2 separate regions of the Homo sapiens genome follow, and region 1 is linked to region 2. The links come from fine-mapping of genetic effects on gene expression. Tissue or cell type: whole blood. Region 2 holds a variant in brackets; the other region holds the start of a gene. All regions are shown on one strand. Distances are between the middles of the regions.

The links. PIP is the estimated chance that this variant, and not a neighbour inherited with it, causes the effect.
Region 1: it holds the start of HSD17B12, and the variant in region 2 is fine-mapped to the expression of HSD17B12 in whole blood (INTERVAL, PIP above 0.99).

Annotation. Positions count from the first base shown.
Region 1 is chr11:43,677,241-43,685,348 of GRCh38, forward strand. HSD17B12 (hydroxysteroid 17-beta dehydrogenase 12) reads left to right here and starts at 3,498. Exons shown (of 11, transcript NM_016142.3): 1 at 3,498-3,747. The coding sequence starts at 3,588. RefSeq lists enhancers at 3,093-3,142, 3,353-3,918, 3,993-4,042, 4,193-4,252.
Region 2 is chr11:43,790,343-43,798,450 of GRCh38, forward strand. HSD17B12 (hydroxysteroid 17-beta dehydrogenase 12) reads left to right here. Exons shown (of 11, transcript NM_016142.3): 4 at 7,978-8,085. Among named protein-coding and RNA genes, the nearest start is that of ALKBH3, 86 kb to the right of the region's middle. The variant A/G (reference allele first, on the strand shown) is at 3,708.

The DNA.
Region 1 (8,108 bases), 110 kb before region 2:
AAGGTATGTTGAACTGTTACCCTTAGAATTATTATCCTTAAGTTCTTGCTTTACAAAAAACACTCAAGTCTTGAATCAGCAGCCCCTACTGGCTAAGAACAAATTTTAGGTACCTTTCTGAGCCCAAATCCATGCCAGAGAAGGAAACAAAAACTCTTGAAGGAAGGTAGAGAGTAAGTGTGAAGCACTTTATTGTTTTACACAATTTTTTTAAATTATACTTTAAGTTCTAGGGTACATGTCCACAATGTGCAGGTTTGTTACATATGTATACATGTGCCATGTTGGTGTGCTGCACCCACTAACTCGTCATTTACATTAGGTTTATCTCCTAATGCTATTCCTCCCCACCCCCCCACCACCCCATGACAGGCCCCAGTGTGTGATGTTCCCTTTCCTGTGTCCAAGTGTTCTCATTGTTCAATTCCCACCTATGAGTGAGAACATGTGGTGTTGGGTTTTTGTCCTTGCGATAGTTTGCTGAGAATGATGGTTTCCAGCTTCATCCATGTCCCTACAAAGGACATGAACTCATCCTTTTATATGGCTGTATAGTATTCCATGGTGTATATGTGCCACTTTTTGTTAATCCAGTCTATCATTGTTGGACATTCGGGTTGGTTCCAAATGTGAATAGTGCTGCAATAAACATACGCGTGCATGTGTCTTTATAGCAGCATGATTTATAATCCTTTGGGTATATACCCAGTAATGGGAAGGTTGGGTCAAATGGTATTTCTGGTTCTAGATCCTTGAGGAATCACCACACTGTCTTTCACAATGGTTGAACTAGTTTACAGTCCCACCAACAGTGTAAAAGTGTTCTTATTTCTCCACATCCTCTCCAGAACCTGTTGTTGCCTGACTTTTTAATGATTGCCATTCTAACTGGTATGAGATGGTATCTCATTGTGGTTTTGATTTGCGTTTCTCTGATGGCCAGTGATGATGAGCATTTTTTCATGTGTCTGTTGCCTGCATAAATGTCTTCTTTTGAGAAGTATCTGTTCATATCTTTTGCCCACTTGTTGATGGGGTTGTTTGTTTTTTTCTTGTAAATTTGTTTGAGTTCTTTGTAGATTCTGGATATTAGCCCTTTGTAAGATGAGTAGATTGCAAAAATTTTCTCCCATTCTGTAGGTTGCCTGTTCACTCTGATGGTAGTTTCTTTTGCTGTGCAGAAGCTCTTTAGTTTAATTAGATCCCATTTGTCAATTTTGGCTTTTGTTGCCATTGCTTTTGGTGCTTTAGACATGAAGTCCTTGCCCATGCCTATGTCCTGAATGGTATTGCCTAGGTTTTCTTCTAGGGTTTTTTATAGTTTTAGGTCTAACATGTAAGTCTTTAATCCATCTTGAATTAATTTTTGTATAAGGTGTAAGGAAGGGATCCAGTTTCAGCTTCCTACATATGGCTAGCCAGTTTTCCCAGCACCATTTATTAAATAGGAAATCCTTTCCCCATTTCTTGTTTTTGCCAGGTTCATCAAAGATCAGATAGTTGTAGATGTGTGGTGTTATTTCTGAGGGCTCTGTTCTGTTCCATTGGTTTATATCTCTGTTTTGGTGCCAGTACCATGCTGTTTTGATTACTGTAGCCTTGTAGTATAGTTTGAAGTCAGGTAGTGTGATGCCTCCAGCTTTGTTCTTTTGGCTTAGGATTGACTTGGCAATGCGGGCTCTTTTTTGGTTCCATATGAACTTTAAAGTAGTTGTTTCCAATTCTGTGAAGAAAGTCATTGGTAGCTTGATGGGGATGGCATTGAATCTATACATTACCTTGGGCAGTATGGCCATTTTCACGATATTGATTCTTCCTATCCATGAGCATGGAACGTTCTTCCATTTGTTTGTGTCCTCTTTTATTTCGTTGAGCAGTGGTTTGTAGTTCTCCTTGAAGAGGTCCTTCACATCCCTTGTAAGTTGGATTCCTAGGTATTTTATTTTCTTTGAAGCAATTGTGAAGGGGAGTTCAGTCATGATTTGGCTCTCTGTTTGTCTGTTATTGGTGTATAAGAATGCCTGTGATTTTTGCACATTGAGTTACAAGACAGGGATGCCCTCTCTCACCACTCCTATTCAACATAGTGTTGGAAGTTCTGGCCAGGGCAATCAGGCAGGAGAAAGAAATAAAGAGTATTCAGTTAGGAAAAGAGGCAGTCAAATTGTCCCTGTTTGCAGATGACATAATTGTATATTTAGAAAACCCCATCGTCTCAGCCCAAAATCTCCTTAAGTTTTACACAATTTTTTAAACTTACCTTGTGATCTTTCTCCTCTGCAACTTTGCTAACGTAGTTCCCATGCCTCTATCTGGACTTCACACTTCTGTGCCCCCTGGAAATACCACTCCCCCACTCCCCAACCAAAAAAGGGAAATTTAAAAAAGAAAGTAAAATTTTCTATCCCCCTTTGAAGACAAATTAAAAGATATAGTCTCCTTCCAAAACTAATTGTTCAGCAAGCTGTGTTCCTATATTTTTCATTCACCATACAGCTCTGATGCCATCGTCTAACAGTTATTAGACTCCATCAGGTTATTTGCCTTGAACCCCAAATCGTTGGGAACTAAGTGATGTTTAGTGCTCAGCTGGGAGGGAGGTCTGGCATTTAAGGGCTCTCTATGAGTGAGTGTAACCCGGGCGAATGCCTGCAGCGAGGAAGGCACAGACACAGAAGACTGCAAGCCTTTATCTGGAAAAGTTTATGGCAACAATGACAGCACGCTTAACAATGATATATTTATTATATAATTATATCATATATGTAAAATATATATTTATTTAATAAAGAGTTGAAAATAAAACTGTGGCTCCACACCTATTTCTTTTCTTTTTTTTTTTGTTTTTGTTTTGGGATGGAGTCTCACTCCGTCGCTCAGGCTGGAATGCAGTGGCGCGATCTCGGCTCACTGCAACCTCTGCCTCCCGGGTTCGTGATTCTCCTGCCTCAGCCTCCCGAGTAGCTGAGATTACAGGCGCACGCCACCACGCCCGGCTAATTTTTGTATTTTTAGTAGAGACGGGGTTCGGATGTTGGCCAGGCTGGTCTCGGACTCCTAAGCTCAAGCGATTCGCCCGCCTCGGCCTCCCAAAGTGCTGGGATTACAGGTGTTAGCCACCGCGCCCTGCCTACGCCCACTTCTTACTATAATCTTTCCATTCACTAGCGGCTTCTCTGATCCCATTTCCTCTTCGAACCTGAGCTCAAACCAGCCTGGGTCTGACCGGCCAATCCGAGCGCAGTCTTCCGCAGTCGCGAGTACGGCTGCAGCCAATGAGAGACCGGGGCGCCTCGGTGGGGTGAGACAGGGCGCTCACTGGCGGAACCCCGGGGGACGCGGTGATGGGAGGAGTGTGGGAGGGGCAGTGGAACTGGAGTCAGCTAATGGCTGACGCACTACGCGCAGAGGGAAAGACGGGTCACCAATAGCGACACGGATATGGCCCCGCGGGCGGGGTTTAGGCCCAAAGTGGTGTCGGAGCAGCGCCTATTAGTGTCATCCTCACCGTCACGGCCGGCGCCTCCTCCTGGATTCATTCACTCGCTCTTTTCATTCACGAAGGTAGTGAGGCCTAGTGGAAAGCCATGGAGAGCGCTCTCCCCGCCGCCGGCTTCCTGTACTGGGTCGGCGCGGGCACCGTGGCCTACCTAGCCCTGCGTATTTCGTACTCGCTCTTCACGGCCCTCCGGGTCTGGGGAGTGGGGAATGAGGCGGGGGTCGGCCCGGGGCTCGGAGAATGGGCAGGTGAGTCGGATGCAGCGCCGCGTCCTCGCTCCCGCGGCGGCCCGGACCAGGCCTGGGCCGTGATGACTAGTTCTGGGGTCTGCTCCTGGCCTTCCCCTCCCCAGCTCTCCTCTTTCTCAGGCTCCTGTGCCCCGCGGGCCCCTCCTGGCTCCCTTGGCTGTCTTCTGCTTGCTTAGACTACTTGCAGAGTTTTAAGGTACGAAATACACTGCTCGCTCAATCCTGGGAATCTAAGCTCAGCTTAGGGTGTAGGAGAAAACTGCCTTAAGTCTCTGGGGCTTGTGCCCTTTAAGCCATTCCGTGTTCATGGAGCCAGTCAGTCGCCCTGCTGCCTCCTCAGTCACACGCTGTCCTCCTTGGTTCGCCCCTTGTAAGTGTTTTTAAAATAAAGTTTTTCGCTCGGTTTGAATATTGGCCCTGTGCTAAGGATGCAGAGCATTCTGTTAACATGTTTGGGCAGAGGATGGAAAGGGGTGTAGGGACACAATTTCAGAAGGCTTTTTGCACTGCGGAATCGTACCTCCCCAGTTACGATTAAGATAGTAATCGTATCTGGATTTGGCCTATTTCATACAATTACAAAGCCCCTTTAAAAGGAATTCTCGCTAAACTGTTCTGGAGTCCTAACGAGTAGCAAGAACTATTGCTTCTGTAAAATGATAACTCATCATGTTAAAATCAGATTTTTTTTTTTTTTTCACAAGGACGTTTGTAGGAAAAAGTATACCCGTAAAGAGTGAACCAAACACATGGAACTTGTAGTCGGAGGATTTTTAAAATGGAGGACGAAGGTCAGGTTGAGGAAATAGGGAAAATTATCTGCAGGGAAGTTTTGCTCCCCCCCCCCTTTTTTTTTTCTTTTTCAACCTATTTTGTTTCCTTCTTTGCTTTATTTTTCGTCTCTTGGCCTTTTTTCCCTTTAAACCGAGTGATTACTTATGATATGCTTGTGGTCCTACCCTGAGATGATTATTTATTTTGATGTTTTATAATCGAATGTGCACTTCCTAAGCATTTTATTGAATTTTGGGGTGGTTAGGCATTGCCTGCAGACTGGGCTCAGGTAAGATACACTAATAATGTTACTCCATGTTCTTTGTTTATTTAGAAACATTTAAACAACCTAGTAGGAAAGACATATGTTAACCTTTTGGGTTTATGTTAACATTAAGAGAAAACATCTTAGCAGTGGATATGTATGTGAAATCTTTGGACGATGTGGAGCAACATTATAATTCTGTTTCACAGTCACCTGTTTCTCTGAAAAAGGAAGTGAAATGTTCAGCTGGGTGTGATGGCTCACGCCTGTAATCCCAGCATTTTGGGAGGCCGAGGCGAGTGGATCACAAGGTCAGGAGTTTGAGACCAGCCTGACCAACACGGTGAAACCCCGTCTGTACTAAAAATACAAAAATTAGCTGGGCGTGGTGGCGCGCCCCTGTAGTCCCAGAGGCTGAGGCAAGAGAATCGCTTGAACCCAGGAGGCGGAGTTTGCAGTGAGCCGAGATCATGCCACTGCACTCCATCCAGCCTGGGTGACAGAGCGAGACTCATCTCAAAAAAAAAAAAAAAAAAAAAACAGAAAGTGAAGTATTCAACTTGGTTATAATTAAGATTATGATTTCCCAATTGACTTGCCCACATTCTTCATTGTTAGTTTTGGAAAACCTGTTTGAAGACTTTTGACTACAAAAGACTACAAGATTTTTATACAAGATAAAAATTAGGGAATTGTATCAAGATAAAATTTGTAATTGGTAAGCAAAGACTAATGTTAATAACTTGTTGTTTTCTTTTCTTTTCTTTTTTTTTTTGAGACAGGGTCTCACTTTGTCACCCAGGCTGGAGGGCAGTGGTGTGGTGGTGTGATCATAGCCAACTGCAGCCTCGAACTCTTGGGTTCAAGTGATCCTCCCATGTGAGCCTCCTGAGTAGCTGGGACTACAGGTGTGCATCACCACACCAGCTCATTTTTTTTGTTTTTTGTAGAGACAAGGCCTCACTCTGTTTCAGAGGCTGGTCTGGAAGACCTGAGATCAAGCAATCCTCCTGCTTCAGCCTCCCAAAGTGCTGGGATTACATGTGTGAGCCACCATGCCTGGATGTGTTTTTTTTTGTTTTTTTTTTTTTTTCTCTTTAAAATTGACCATATTGGTTGATTATTCAAATGATAAGTCCAAGTCATCTACATATGAGTGTACAGTAAAAGGCAAGTGATGTAACACCATAAGTAACATTTGTGTTGAAAAGATTTGGCCCCAGAGGAAGGATAATTGATAAATTAAGGGAAGTATTTGTGTAAGATTTAGATATGAAATTTGAACTGGAACACTGGAACAGCAGAGGATCATAGTATCATAATTGAAGTGAAATGCTGACAGGTTCAATTTACCCTGGGTTTTGGATTTTTTTTTTTTAAATGCTTAAGCAGAAGAAGTGATCTTAAAAGAAAATACTCCCTTTATCTTCAAATTCTGGGACTCTTCAAAAACAAAATTAAGAGCAGCTCATCTTAAACAGGTTCTTCACATGAGTTGGAGGGGTGAACTGAAATAATTTGAAAAACAAACTAGCAGAGATGACACTTGAATAATTAGAGTTGTGATTAAAAATATTGTTCCACCAAAGTTATGATTTTAGAATTGTTGTATGTAAATAGTACTAGTAAGTTTTTTCCCTACGAAATTACTATCTTAATCTCAAGAGTCTCTGTTCTTATGCAGCCTTTGAATCTACTTTCTAGTACTAATATTTAATATTTTCCTCTTTAAAACCAATTATATATTTTAAGTATTTTATTAGTATATGTTGAATTGATACTATATTTTTATTCTTGTTATTCTTAGTCTCTTCATGTGAGTATCTTCATGTGAGTATGTTTAATCTGTCTGCCTCAGATTTTAGGATCTGAGGGGCAGAAAGCGTGGATTCTCACTTTTTGTCTTTTCTCACAAATTGGCTCTTCTAAATTTAAGAACAAAAACTTTGAAAAACTTGAAATACAGGTATGCTTCACAATCAGTAAAATATTCTAGATAACAGTTTCCTTAGTGTTGTTAGGCTTTCAAGACTGTCCATTACTTGGCTGGCCCACACTCTAATTTATCTCCATCTCCTGGTCAAGAGCTGGGCCATCTCTTTCTCCTAGTTCTCACCAGTAACATTCCCACTCAGGTGAATCCCCTGTGTTCCCTATACCCCTAGAAGGTGGGTTTAGCCAATTTAGTAAGTAAGACTTCTTTGTCATTGTTACCCGAATACTTCCTGTATTTCTTAGGAGAACAAAAGGAGATCCTGTGAATGTGGAGTTTCAGGTGTTTGAAGGTCAGTGTAGCAAGTAATCAAAAAAAGATTGATAACAAAGGTGGTCAGTTTGTATTAAATAAAGGAAAGAACAGTCACTGCTATAGAGCAATAAAAAATGTGATCTGTAGAATGTGGTTTGACCATAAATACATTTTGCAAGTATTTGAGTAGTTTCCATTGCTGGAGTTCATCTAAAATGATTGCTATTGAAATAAAGTGGAGATGATAGATGCAAAGGCAAGGTAAGTAGACTTCCAATGTCAAGATATTTTATAACTTTAAACATAAGACAGCACTCTGAGCACTTATTTTTAGTTTTTAATGAAGAGGATATTGTTACACGCAGTGAAGAATAAATGATCCACTAATCAGTTAGTGAGTTAGATTTTTTAAAACAACTTTAGTGGGATATAATTAATATACCATACAATTTGCCCATTTAAAGTGTACAATTCAAGGTTTTTACTTATGTTCACAGGGTTGTGCAACCATCATCAAATCTAATTTCAGAACATTTTCATCTTCCTTAAAAGAAATGCTGTACCCATTAGGCCCTTCACTCCCTGACCCCCACCCGCTCCAGCCCTAGTCAACTACCAATCTACTTTCTGTCTACGTAGGTTTGCCTGTTCTGGATATTTCATATAAATGGAATCATACAATAGGTGTTCTTTTTTGTTAGTGGCTCTTTGATTTTTGCATAATGTTTTCAAGTTTCATCTATGAAATCTGTACTTCATTTTGTTTGTATTGCTGAATAATATTCTGTTTTGTGGAGTGAGGTCAGATTTCACAAAAAAAGTCTTCAACCCTTTGTTCTACCCTCTGGATGTTTACATTAGCAAATCTCTAAGATGTAGCTTCTGGTTGCTGATGGAACTCGTTTGGCTTTGCAGTATTCCAAGGTTCTCCTAATTCAGTAGATAGTGAGGACTTAAAAATGGCATGGAATGGTGTGGTTCTCCTCTGGAAAAACCATTCATGAAAACATGCATCAAAGGATTCTCAAAATCACAGGTATAATCACAATTTCTGTTTTCACATTGGTTAACTGC
Region 2 (8,108 bases):
GGTAAGAGTTAAGAATACAGATTATACCTACAGCAGCCTATGCTATTAAGGAAAAAACAACTATTTGCCAAGCAGCCATCTTTGTAGATATTGGCAGATAGAGGAGTCCCCCCCGTGTCTGCAGGGGATATGCCACAAGATCCCCAGTGAATACTTGAAACTGTGGATAGTGCTGAACCCTATATACCTATATGTGCTCTTTTTCTGATCTGATAACCAAGAGAGATACTAAGTGACTAAAGAGTGGGTGGTGTGTACAGCATGGATATGCTGGACAAAGGTATGATTCACACTGAGAGCAGGACAGTGCAAGATTTCATCATGCTAATTAGAATGGCGTGCAATTTAAAACTTATGAATTATTATGGGCCAGGCACAGTGGCTTACGCCTGTAATCCCAGCACTTTGGGAGGCTGAGGCAGGCGGATCACCTGAGGTCAGGAGTTTGAGACCAGCCTGGCCAACATGGTGAAACCCCATCTCTAATAAAAAAATACAAAAATTAACAGGGCATGGTAGTGGGTGCCTGTAATCCCAGCTACTCGGAAGGCTGAGGCAGGAGAATCGCTTGAACCCAGGAGGTGGAGGTTGCAGTGAGCCAAGATTGCACCATTGCATTCCAGCCTGGGCAACAAAAGCGGAACTCCATCTCAAAAAAACAAAAAACAAAATAAAAAAAAACTGTGTAGGGTGGGTATTATTTTTTGTGGTTTTCTAGGCTAAGAAATGGTATTCTTGAAAGTTCAAAGGCTTGAGTGAAGGGCCTTAGGCCAGCAACCAGTTGAGTTGGCACTCAAGTGCAGGTCTTCTAACTGCATCCCAGGCTCTTCCAGTGAACCCTGCTTTCATACTGCTAGCAGTAGCATCTTGGAATCTTAAGTGTAGTAATCTTAAGAATGATGTTTTGGGCCGGGAGCAGTGGCTCATGCCTGTAATCCTAGCACTTTGGGAGGTCAAGGCAGGCGGATCACCTGAGGTCAGGAGTTCGAGACCAGCCTGGCCAACGTGGCAAAACCCTGTCTCTACTAAAAATACAAAACTTAGCTGGGTGTGGTGGTGGGTGCCTGTAATCCCAGCTACTTGGGAGGCTGAGGCAAGAGAATCTCTTGAACCTGGCAGGCAGAGGTTGCAGTGAGCTGAGATCACACTACTGCACTCCAGTCTGGGTGACAGAGTGAGACTCTGTCTCAAAAAAAAAAAAGAAGAAGAAGAAGAAGAGGAATATTTTGCCTTTTTCTCCCCTCAAAAAACAAAATTCAGGTACTTCTGTTGACCTTTTGTTTACCAAGTGCAGAAAAATCAACGTTGTTATATGAAAATTTCTTCAAGAGTGGTTTGTACAAGAGTCTACAATTCCTGGACCAACTGTAGAACCCAGAGCTTTCAAAAGGATGGAGCCTATTCACGTCCTATCAATAGAACAGATTCACGCAGCATAAGGTTTTTATTTATTGCAAGTGGTTGTTCTAGTTAAAGAGGCTATAATGAAAAAAATATAATAACCTTGGCTTAAAATAAAGAAATGCTTGGTTTGAGATAGAATCCTGATGAGCTATGATTAATTTTTTGGAAAATGGGTCTCTTCATATGAGATTAAAATTGTCATGAATATTTTTCCAAGGGCAACATAAAAAAGGAAATAGACCATTATTTGTGTGGCATCTCTGCTCATTGTAATTAAATGGGCCTTTATAAATGGAGTCAGATCAATTATTCCCTTCTGGTACACAATCACCTTTTCCAAAGTCATGTAAGGCAGGCTTTCTTTGTTGGGGGATGTCTCACCCCAAGGGATAGTAGGGATGTAAGGATACGGTAAGGCCTAGGAGTTGTGGGGGAAAGAAGACAGGAAAAGAAGGGAAGTGGAGAGAAATTGGTTAGGGTACTTTGTTTTTCTTTTCCCCTTAAAATTAGAGAAAGTACAAAAGACTTGTCTTGCATCTTTTAAATCTCTAAATACTGTAAAACATAATTTTAGTGAAAATGGAGAGGTTTTTTAAAAAACGTGCGAGACATTTTTATGGTTACAAACTGAATTTTATGAATTTATTTTTAAGATGCTAAAATTGGTACGCATTGAATATAGTGCTGTTTCTCTAAGAGTCTCCTCTCCCCAACTCATTATCTTTTCCAAGACTGGAATAAGGGAGATTGGTACATGACTAAAATATCCTCAACCTTCATATATGTGCCCCTGAGCCAAGCTTAGAGTACTTTATTCATGAGATGGGATGGTTTCTAAGGTTTCTTATAACTCTAAAATGTTTGAATTTATATGAGAATGATAGTCCAGACCCGTGTATGACAGATGGAGGAACTGAATTGTCTCTCAATGTAACCTTTTTTTTTTTTTTTTTTTTTTGAGAGCTGGAGTCTTGCTATGTTGTCCTGGCTGGTCTCAAACTGCAGGGCTCAAGTGATCCTCTTGCTTCAGCCTCCAGAGTAGGTGGTACTACAGGCGTGCACCACCACACCCCACTCTAGCTTATATTTTAATATGCCTAATGTTCTGTCTTATACATACATTTCTTACCAGCATGTAAGAAATGTAATTTCTATAGGGAGGAATTCAAGAAGTATTGAGAAGATGATTTTAATAAATCAGCTGTGTTGGCCTAGCTTTATTTACTCATTTAACAAACATTGAGCAGAATGACCTCTGCTTTATGCCAGACATGGTGCTAGCTGCAGGGAATACAAATATGACAAATAATGCTCCCTGTTTAAGAAACAGACTCTTTGCTTAATATATTAAGTGCCTCGTAGGGTTATATAGAAGGTTTCTAGGAGCACAGCAGAGAGTGGAAGTAGCTTTACCTTGGAGGAAATAGGAATAGTGAAAAATATGTCCACGGATGCAGTAACATGACTTGAATCTTAAAGAATGTTATAATAATGTTATAATATGGAAAAAGTGAGGAAGGGTGATATGACAGAAATTTCATAATGGATAGTACCTAAAACTTACAGGGGAAGGCAGGCTGTTTATTTGGAGCAGATGTGGGGACAAAGGAGAGTCAACATATATATTTTGGTTTTATTAATAGAAAAAACACAAATAACACACAAGTTTATGTAAATTAGACTTCTTTTGTAACATTCTCAGACTTAATATCCCCAGCCACCTAGGGGAAAAACTTGAGGAAAGTCCTTCTAAAATCTATAAAATTATTTTTATAGAAAGAGAAATTTAAAAGGAAATGCCAATTTGTTGAGCAAAATGAAAATGATGATGGCCAGAGCTGGAAGTATGGTAAACATAAAGCCATTCTGAATATATTTATCACCTTTCTTGGCTTGTACCTAAAAATGTGTGAGTTTTAATATTGAGAGGTGTTTCAGCAGCATCTTGAGACTATTTGAGGGTTCAGTTCCTTTTCTGTCAATTCCAGACTTGACCTTGAATGAATTCTGAATACTCTGTGTCGTAAACAGCAGTGTGACTGTAGGAGTGGTGCATGTGCTCTTGCAGGTGATGGAATGGCTTGAGGCCAGTGAGGATATTCATTATTCTATAGCACTATCGTTATAAATAATATTTGCTTTCTGCTTTTCCACAATTGTAGTTATCTGGTTTTCAATGGAGCAGTAGATAGAAAGGGAGTGAATAGTATCAGTGTAGCTTAGCTTCATTCTCCACTTTTTATGCCAGAGTTGCATTTCTGCCTCCATTTCTAGTTAGTTGACTGCCTCGAGCAGTTCATACC[A/G]GTTTTTTTCTTCTTGGTGTTTGGTCTTAGCCACTAGGCTGAGAGGCAGTTGGCCAAGACCATCTGATAATTATTTTCATCTGAAAATAAAGTTGGGATGGGTCATGACTATATGTAACCACAACTGTAAGTAGTGGGATGCTAGCTCATACAATTTCAGATACCGACTGATTTGTCAATAGGCATCAATAGTATTGAGTATCTGTATATATCATGGAATTCTTTAAGTCTTTAAGAATTTACAACCACAAGATTTTACTGTGAGATATTTAAACAAAACATTTGAATAAATGGAGAGCCCGGAGGGAATGCCACATTGTCATTCTTTAATTGAAATGTTTAATGTAATCCCAATCAAAACTGAGACTAAACAGGTGAGGATAAGCAATAAGTTTTTAAAAAAGAAGAACAAAGTAGACTTGCACTACTAGAAATGTTGAAACCCATTTTAGATGTAGCATAACTAAAACTAGGGCATTGTGAAAGAACAGAAAAATAAGATAATAAACAGACTATACTTCTGGAATCAGAATCTTGTAGGTACAAGCTGTCCAATCACTTTAAACATTCACCGGGATCAGCCATTGGATGAGGATGCTACGGAAAGAGCGTGATCTTGGACAAGGCAACTCTGCAGCTGAGGCTGACACCCAAAAGCTGTCTGCTGGTGATACTCCCACAATTAGGGCAACATGAGTTTCACTGAAGGGGTAATTGTGTGGCTCATATCATATTCATTGCAACCTCCAAATCCAATTGTTTGTGCATCTTTATCCTACACACTTGTGGGATATTGATTTTAACTTATTTCAACTCCTACTCTGGAAAAAAGAGAGAGGCTGTGTCATTTCTTAGACCTTTGTAATGAGGCAAGGATCAGAGTCCCAGAAGAAGTACTACTCCAAAAACTTTGGTAAAGTGCTTATTCTTCCCTAGCAGTAGGCTGTTGCTGAGTTGTAGACTGGTGGTTTTATGAAAAAAAACAGGTTGGGGAGGTGTGAAGATGGAAATGAGGGCTGTGTTATGTATATCTGGTATCTACTTCTGTTCCAGGTGCTTAATTCACCCTCATACTGATGTTTAAAGTTAGAGGATTCTTGTCCATTTGTCTTGTCTTCTGTTGGCAGGGTCACATGCAGGGTAATAGGCTATGGGAAGGGGGAAGATGCCTAGATTTACTTCTAGGCTGGTCTCCAAGCCCCAAGTTCAAGCCTCCTGAGTAGCTGAGACTACAGGCACACACCATCGTTCTCAACTTTTCTTTTTTAACATAGGCTAGCTAGCTCCCACCTTAGCCTTCTAGACCCCTCCATTATAATTCTTATTCAATTGCCTTGGCCCAGAAAGAGACAGTTCCTGTCCTATTCTTATATATGCACATCTATTTTTGATTCACAGAACTCGATGGTGGAGGTGGAGGCAGTTGATGGAATTCTGAAAGTCCACCCAACCATGTCCCTGGTCAATAGCATGCATGTACCATATTCCTTGGAAAGGAAACGTGGTGGGAGTCTGCTGGATTCTTCTGGGGAAATTTTCTCTCTATAAAAGGGACATATCACAGAGACATACAATCTCTGCCTCCGAACATTGTTGTCTGCATGCGATGCATGGAATGGCAATGGCCCTCCAGGAAAGGAGCCAGCCTAAGGGAAAAGAGAGGAGGGTGGGAAAATCCCAGATCATTTGTGCCATTGTTGAGCAACTGAACAAAACAGAACCAAGTCCTTGTCTTCTTGAAGCTTAATTTGAGTCAAGACATATAGACAAGCATGTACATTATTAAAATACACTACCTAGTGTATTAGAAGGTGGTAAGTACAATGGGATAAAATAAAGCAGGGAAGGGCATGAGGAGTGCTGGGGGGGATGGTTGCATTTATTAAAGGGTGGGCAAGGCAGGCTTCTCTGAGAAGGTAACATTTGCTCAAGGACCCACCAGAGACAAGGGATGTGGAAGAGCATTCCAAACATAGGGAATGGTAAGTTTAAGTCCCGAGTGTACGTGGACAACATTCTGTATCTAAACAACTGCTAGGATCCCCTATGGCTAGAACTGAGGAGCAACGGGGAGAGTAGTTGGAGGTGAGTTCAGCCAATAAACTCACACCGTTTATTAGGCTGTTGCCACAGCCTTTTGGCTCTTACTCTGAGTGAGAGGGAAATCTCTGGAGGTTTGTGAAGAGGTGGGTATCATGGTCTGACCTACGTTAAATAGGAAAAGCCGGGAACGATGGTGTGTGCCTATAGTCCCAGCTACTAAGGAGGCTTAAGCCCAGGCTTGAGACCCCATCTCTTAAAAGAAAAAAAAAAATGGAAAGGCTCACAATAGAGGCAGTGAAGAAAAGTTGTTTTTTAAAAAAGGCAGTGGTCACTGTATTAGTACATGATTCTGGGAAATCTAGGTATGAGTTCAGAAATTTTAATTAACCTGAAAAACTTGTACCAGAAGCCATTTGCTTATGCTAATGTGAATACAAAGAGCTTGCTTTGGTTCATTACTAAATAACATTCTTCGTGAAAGTGTCATTGAATCTTTTTAGCAACATATCTATACAAAACTCTACAATGTAAGTATGTACATTCAGCAAATCCTGTGAGATGCAGAAGAGTGAATTTGGTTCAGGAGTTGTGAGTTGGCTTTTATTGGTAGAAAATTTCCTGAATGTCAATACCTAATACTAGTATGGAAAAATAATTTGCTTTTCAAAATAAATAGATAAATTTACCTTATGTTATTCTTGAATGAAGTTTTTCATTTAATCAAAGGTATTTTTAAGCTTTTGTTTTGGGGCTTTTTTTTTCCCTTGTGGATCTGTGGCTATAATAAAGTCAGCATTCTTTATTTACTGGTGATAAATTCTGTGAAATGTTAAAGTAGACATGTTGGACCAGCTATTGTGAAATTACAGCTCTGTCTCTAACTTCCCATTACATGAGCACACCTATAACTCATTTATATTAGCACAGTAAGTATACCTTTAACACCAAATAAGGTATTTTCTAGGTCAATTCTTCTTTTCAGTTTATTCATGGATTTCTACCTAGGGTCAGTACTTTTCATTAAGTCTAACTAAGAATCAGATCTCTCATGAACCAACTCTTTAGTTTTAGACAGAAATCCTTTTAGGTCAAGAATACATACCTCCTACGAGGATTAATCCTGCATGCTCTGTGATGAGCTGACATTGACTTTGACTAAAGAAAGATTTATTTTTGGAAGCAGGATTTTAAAATTAGTTCTTTTGAATTCTCAGCAAGTTCTAAAGAATAAGCATTCCTAGCTCACTGGACTTGACTAAGTAAGCTGAGTGGAGATGGTTGAGGAGAGAAAGAGAATCTAGCCTTTATGGACTGCCGTCTGCGTACCATAGGTATCATGTGAGCCTCACATCATCATTTGGGTAAAATTATCTTCATTTTCACCAAAGGATGGTGAGGCTCAAAGAGGATGTGTGACTTGCTTAAAGTCATTTTGCAAATATATGTGGAAATGAAATTGATGCTCATGTCTGTGTGACCTCAGAGCCTGTGCTATCTCTTCACAGGGGCTGTCTATTGAAGGCAAAAGTAAATACTGTACATTAACTCAGATGAGTTTTGTTCCTCCAGGGTCTCATTTCTGAAGCTATTATTTTCATCAGCACTGTTTGGACCTTAATAGACTTGTGTAAAGTAGAATACTGAGTTGTTTCTCATGTTACTTTATTCCTTTATTACTGTGCATTTTGTGTGGATTTTAAAATGTAGTGATTATTAACTATTAACCAAGCTCCCAAATTATAAGATCCCATTCATTTTATTTCCATTGTGATAAGATAGACTTTTTGTTTTAATGTGTCACACTTTAAAATATTTTACAACATGAAGACTTCTTCCTGAAGTTACAAAGCACCAATTTACAATTAAAATCACAAAGCCAGTGATATTTAAAGAGTATATAACTTTATGATATGAATCATGTTTTATTATTTGTACCTAAGGGTCTAAAAGTAGTTTTCATTATTGATTTACAAAAGAAGAACTGATTAAGGAACATTCAGCCAGCTCTCTGTGACGACATTAGAATTTTTATTGCAGAACTAATGTGTTGACTCTATATCATCTCTTAGATGGTCTCATGATTGCTTAAAATTATCCTGGTGTAAATTTTGTATCAAATTGGGTGGGGAGAAACGTCTGAAAGGATAATGCTATCAAATGCCTTAATCTTCACTGCCATGTACTAATTTTCCCTGTCTCTCCCCGTTTGTGTTTTCTTTTTCCCTAGAAGAAAAATTCAAAGTGGAGACAAGAACCATTGCTGTTGACTTTGCATCAGAAGATATTTATGATAAAATTAAAACAGGCTTGGCTGGTCTTGAAATCGGCATCTTAGGTTTGTATTTTTGCCACATTTAT